2 separate regions of the Homo sapiens genome follow, and region 2 is linked to region 1. Evidence: fine-mapped expression QTL. Tissue or cell type: whole blood. Region 1 holds a variant in brackets; the other region holds the start of a gene. All regions are shown on one strand. Distances are between the middles of the regions.

Evidence for each region. PIP is the estimated chance that this variant, and not a neighbour inherited with it, causes the effect.
Region 2: HTRA1 starts here. The variant in region 1 is fine-mapped to the expression of HTRA1 in whole blood (INTERVAL, PIP 0.96).

The regions. Positions count from the first base shown.
Region 1 is chr10:122,562,447-122,565,131 of GRCh38, forward strand. The region is part of intron 1 of DMBT1 (deleted in malignant brain tumors 1); the gene reads left to right. Among named protein-coding and RNA genes, the nearest start is that of DMBT1, 3.0 kb to the left of the region's middle. The variant T/C (reference allele first, on the strand shown) is at 1,541.
Region 2 is chr10:122,460,576-122,463,260 of GRCh38, forward strand. HTRA1 (HtrA serine peptidase 1) reads left to right here and starts at 978. Exons shown (of 9, transcript NM_002775.5): 1 at 978-1,549. The coding sequence starts at 1,078. HTRA1-AS1 (HTRA1 and ARMS2 antisense RNA 1) reads right to left here and starts at 830. Exons shown (of 3, transcript XR_946382.3): 1 at 374-830.

The DNA.
Region 1 (2,685 bases):
GGGCCACCAGGCCCAGGACCTCAGGGGAGTGGAGACTGGGCATCCTCATCCTGCCTCCATCAGAAGCATCTGAAACTGGGAGGCTGCGTCCTCAGCCCCAGCTCTTGTCAGTACCGAGTTCACCCTCCAGATTGTCTCTGAACCATGACATGGAATTCACATCAGCCACTGTAGACAGGGAGTGAATTGCCTCGTCTTTATCTACAAAGAAACAACAGGCAGCAGTGCTCTTGGATTGAGGACATTTGTAGTTTGCCCATGATGTTATGTGCATGCATATGGACAGACATGCACACATGTGCATGCATGCCTGTGTTTGCCATTCAGAGGTGGGAATTCATGCTCTCTGAAGTGGACCTGTATTCTCTTATTTAAATCTTCTAACATTGCTGAAGTTAGGAACAATTATTTCCACATTTCAGATGGGGAAACTGAGGCTCAGAAAGGTTATTGGCTTGTCCAAAGACAGCACTGGTGAGTGGCTGGGTTAGGGCTTGAATCTGGATCAAATTCACTAGCATTCAGATGACAGCTCTGGCCCACTGGCCCTTGCTGCTCCTTGCAGGGAACTGAGGTGATGAACTGAACTGTGGCATCTAACTCAGTGCTTGGAGCCTGACCACAGAGCTTTGCGCTGGAAGTACCGAGGTGGCAGGCACCTGTCAGCTCTGGTCTTCATGCAAACTCTTGAGAAAAACTCAGTATGCCCAGGTTTGTGCTGGGCAGGAAAGGCTGTGGTACCCACTGCTAGCCCCAGCAATGCCCCTCCTCTGCCACTTGCCTGCTGTGGATCCTCTGTGACCCTCAGTTTACTCATTTATAAATGGAGGTTATGTTCCAACCCATGCAGTATCTGGCACATAGACAGAGCCTCAGAACCATTTAGTGTTACTACTCTAGACATTTTCCTCATGTTTTATCCAAAAGCAGCTTCCTAAAAGTAATGTGAGCTCTTGGATTGGATCCTGCAACAGAAAATGAAAAACTGGTGAAATCCAGATAAAGCCTGGAGTAAACTTAGTAGGAAGGTACCAGTGTTTGTTAGCATGAGAATCACTTGAACTCAGGAGGCAGAGGTTGCCGTGAGCCGAGATTGTGCCACTGCACTCCAGCCTGGGTGACAGAGTGAGACTCTGTCTCAAAAAAAAAAATTAATAAATCATTTTCCAGAAGTGATTCTTCTCCCTTCAGGCAATTTACCACCATTCCCACAATGGCAGCTGGAGTAACCTACAGCTATGTGGTTGATTCTTGGAAGACTACAGATTGGTCTCAGTATGTGCAGAAGGGTCTATTCAAAATGTGTGGACACAGCAGAACCAGGAACAACTTCAATGTGGTGTTCCATGCTGTGGATGAGCCTTGTCAAGGCTCTGGCTGGATGAGTTCGACTGCCATGGGATTAGGCAGGATACCTGGGACCTGGCAGTGGGAATTGCATGGTGTCAGGTAGACTGTGTTTAAATGGCCGAGTTTTGAATGGAAGGCTCTCTTAGGCACATCTATCAGCTCGTTCTTGAGTGTGGGAGCAGGGATGGCA[T/C]GTCAGAAAAGAGGTGGGGATGTTCTGGTACAGAGTTCCCTAGTTTGCTATCTCTGTTGAAAGAATGTTGTGGTTTCTATTGCGAGTTTCTTCTTCATTTTCAGGGATGCATAGCCACATGGTTTCAGTGGCCCCCTTCCTAAGCCATCAATATGAAGCAGGGCAGCTGGGGGAGCCCATCATGGAGCTCATATTCAGGCTGTTGAGGCAGGTGAAGATGTTCTCTGACATACGGCAAGTCCTGTCACTGGCCTGTTGGTTCCATTAGAGAAATTCAAATCTCTGAACTGTGACTGTCACTGCTCTCAGGACCCACATTTACAAAGAATCTGAAGAGCCGGGCATGGTGACACATGCCTGTAGTTCCAGCTACTCTAGGGCTGGAGGCAGGAGGCTCGCTTGAACCCAGGAATTTGAATCTAGCCTGGGCAATAGAGCAAGACTCTATCTCTAAAAATAAAATAATAATCTGATAATTTTGTCAAATGCCTTAATCCTCCTTTTACCAGGAAGTAAAAAGAAAAGGAATAATGAAAGAAAGTATGCTGGAATTGTTAATAAGAATTTAAACATAGCAGACCTTTTTGTATCACATACATTTTGGTATATAAACATCATAAAAGACAAAAGAATACCATCACATGTATTTTTTTTTTTTAGCAAAATAAGATGGTTGAAGTTCTTGTTGCAAAATATCATGTGATGAAATCCCTATCGAAGTGTGTAAGAGTACTGTATTTTATTTTTGTCCTTAGAATTGTATCATTGACCCTGGATTCTTGAATTTGAGAAATTCATCTAGGATATCATCATCTGAAGACTCATAGTCTGAGATTTCTGTTGTACAATCAATTCTACCATTATTAGTATCTGGAGTGCTATATCTTGTCTCTATATTCCTCTTCTGGTTCATCTAATTATTGCAGAAACATCTTCCCTTGTCAGTTTTCTTCTCTTTGCCATCACAAGTAGAAAATGAAAAAATTTGAATTTTTAACTGCATTCAATGAAAGCTAAAAACAGACTATGAAGAAAGTGTCTCCAATCTTAAAAAAAATCTTCTTGAAAGATAATACAATACTTTGGGCATGGAAGAATTATGACTTATTTCACTAGTTCATCTTCCTTCTAGGCAACTTCACCAT
Region 2 (2,685 bases), 100 kb before region 1:
GAGCTGTGCCCATCTGCTCAGTGTGGACCCAGGACTACTGCCCACAGGCCTGGTGCTGCCTGGGCACCCAGACCCACCTCCAGGGTCGCCCTCAGCCCTCCTGATGACTCTCGGACTCGCATCTGTCCCAACGGATGCACCAAAGATTCTCCAGTGGGAAATCAAATTTTTGATAACAAGTGTTTTGAAATAATCACGCACTTGGTGAAAAATCAAAAGAGGGGAAAACCCCTTTCCCATCTGAGACCGCTCCACCCTCGCCAGTTACGAGCTGCCGAGCCGCTTCCTAGGCTCTCTGCGAATACGGACACGCATGCCACCCACAACAACTTTTTAAAAGAATCAGACGTGTGAAGGATTCTATTCGAATTACTTCTGCTCTCTGCTTTTATCACTTCACTGTGGGTCTGGGCGCGGGCTTTCTGCCAGCTCCGCGGACGCTGCCTTCGTCCGGCCGCAGAGGCCCCGCGGTCAGGGTCCCGCGTGCGGGGTACCGGGGGCAGAACCAGCGCGTGACCGGGGTCCGCGGTGCCGCAACGCCCCGGGTCTGCGCAGAGGCCCCTGCAGTCCCTGCCCGGCCCAGTCCGAGCTTCCCGGGCGGGCCCCCAGTCCGGCGATTTGCAGGAACTTTCCCCGGCGCTCCCACGCGAAGCCGCCGCAGGGCCCCCTTGCAAAGTTCCATTAGTTTGAAGGACGCGAATCTCAGCGAGAGAACCTGCGGAAAGCGAATATGTGGGGCGCGCAGACGGGGAAACTGAGTCCCGCGAGAGGGCCGGCCTGTGCGCTGCCCCGCCCGCGCCCCGCCAGCACCGCCGTGCCCGGGCGCGCCCGCCCTGCCCCCTCCGCGGGCGGTCCCGGTCCAGCCGCCCGCCCTCCCTCCCGCCATCCGGCCAGCCCCCATCCCGGGCGCCGTGCCCGTCCCCAAGGCGGCTCGTCACCGCTGCGAGGCCAATGGGCTGGGCCGCGCGGCCGCGCGCACTCGCACCCGCTGCCCCCGAGGCCCTCCTGCACTCTCCCCGGCGCCGCTCTCCGGCCCTCGCCCTGTCCGCCGCCACCGCCGCCGCCGCCAGAGTCGCCATGCAGATCCCGCGCGCCGCTCTTCTCCCGCTGCTGCTGCTGCTGCTGGCGGCGCCCGCCTCGGCGCAGCTGTCCCGGGCCGGCCGCTCGGCGCCTTTGGCCGCCGGGTGCCCAGACCGCTGCGAGCCGGCGCGCTGCCCGCCGCAGCCGGAGCACTGCGAGGGCGGCCGGGCCCGGGACGCGTGCGGCTGCTGCGAGGTGTGCGGCGCGCCCGAGGGCGCCGCGTGCGGCCTGCAGGAGGGCCCGTGCGGCGAGGGGCTGCAGTGCGTGGTGCCCTTCGGGGTGCCAGCCTCGGCCACGGTGCGGCGGCGCGCGCAGGCCGGCCTCTGTGTGTGCGCCAGCAGCGAGCCGGTGTGCGGCAGCGACGCCAACACCTACGCCAACCTGTGCCAGCTGCGCGCCGCCAGCCGCCGCTCCGAGAGGCTGCACCGGCCGCCGGTCATCGTCCTGCAGCGCGGAGCCTGCGGCCAAGGTACTCCGCCGCGCTCCTGGGCAGCTCCCCACTCTCTCCATCCCAGCTCGGACCTGCTTCTGCGGGACTGGTGGGCAGGTTGAGGGGCAGCGAAGCGTTGTGGGGTGGCCAGGGCAACTCTCGGGGACAGGCAGGTGGGCCCCGGGGTGGCGGATTTCCGCGGGCTGCCTCGGAACCGAGCTTCGCGCCCAGCCCGGGGCCGGTTCTGCGCCCAGACGATGCCAGTACGCCCGGCCTGCACTCTGGGGCTCGAGACGCCGGGCGACCGGCCATGGAGTGCCCTGAGGGCAACCACACAGCGCGGGGACCCCAGGACAAATAAGAGGAATGGGGGCATAAAGGAAGGAGAGAAGTTCAGGACTGGGAATTGGCGCCTCGCAGAGCGGCTTCAGGACCACAAGAAGTCATTTCGGTTGCTTTTTCTTCTATTTACGTCCTCCGTCCCCTTTAAAATTCACTGCTTTGATCACGGGACCGCTCAGTGAAAACTGTATGTAACTCTTTTGGAAAGGAACAGTGTTTGCCGGCCCGCCCCGGAGTTTCTCCAAAAAGTCTACCCCGAGCAGGGAACGGTTTGGCACCGCTCTCGTTTCGGCGGCGTTGCTGCCTGTCTTGCTTTCCTCGTTTTGAGCCAGCCCTACAAAAATGAAAGTGGCTCCTTTTGAATAAGCTGAATCGGGCTTTGGATCACGAAATCTGCAGAGGCGGAGAAGGGACCGGGTTAGTGATGAGGAAGAAGTCTACCCCTCTGTTCCTACAGCCGCACACAGGACCTGTTCTGGCAGGGGAGACGGTGGTGATGGGGGAAGGAGTGGAATGGAGCAATGTCTAACTCTCTCGCGGGACCTTCCGGAGAGATGCTCCTCATCTTCAGGCAGAGGCCATGTGGAAAAATAATATCGAGTTCAGCAGCGGCCAGCCCCGCGTTGTAGGAACCAGACAGCGGGGCTTGGCAGTGCGCTTGGGCGCAGCCGTGCCGCTGCTGCCGGACCCCAGTGCTGCCTCCTCAACACGGGCAGTGCCAGGAGAGGGGCATAGGGGAGCACAGTGCAGAGGGACTGGTCTAGAGTTTACTTTATAGGAATATGGTTCGGTGTGACCAACTAGGGCTTAGCATAGTTTGGCTTACGTGGACG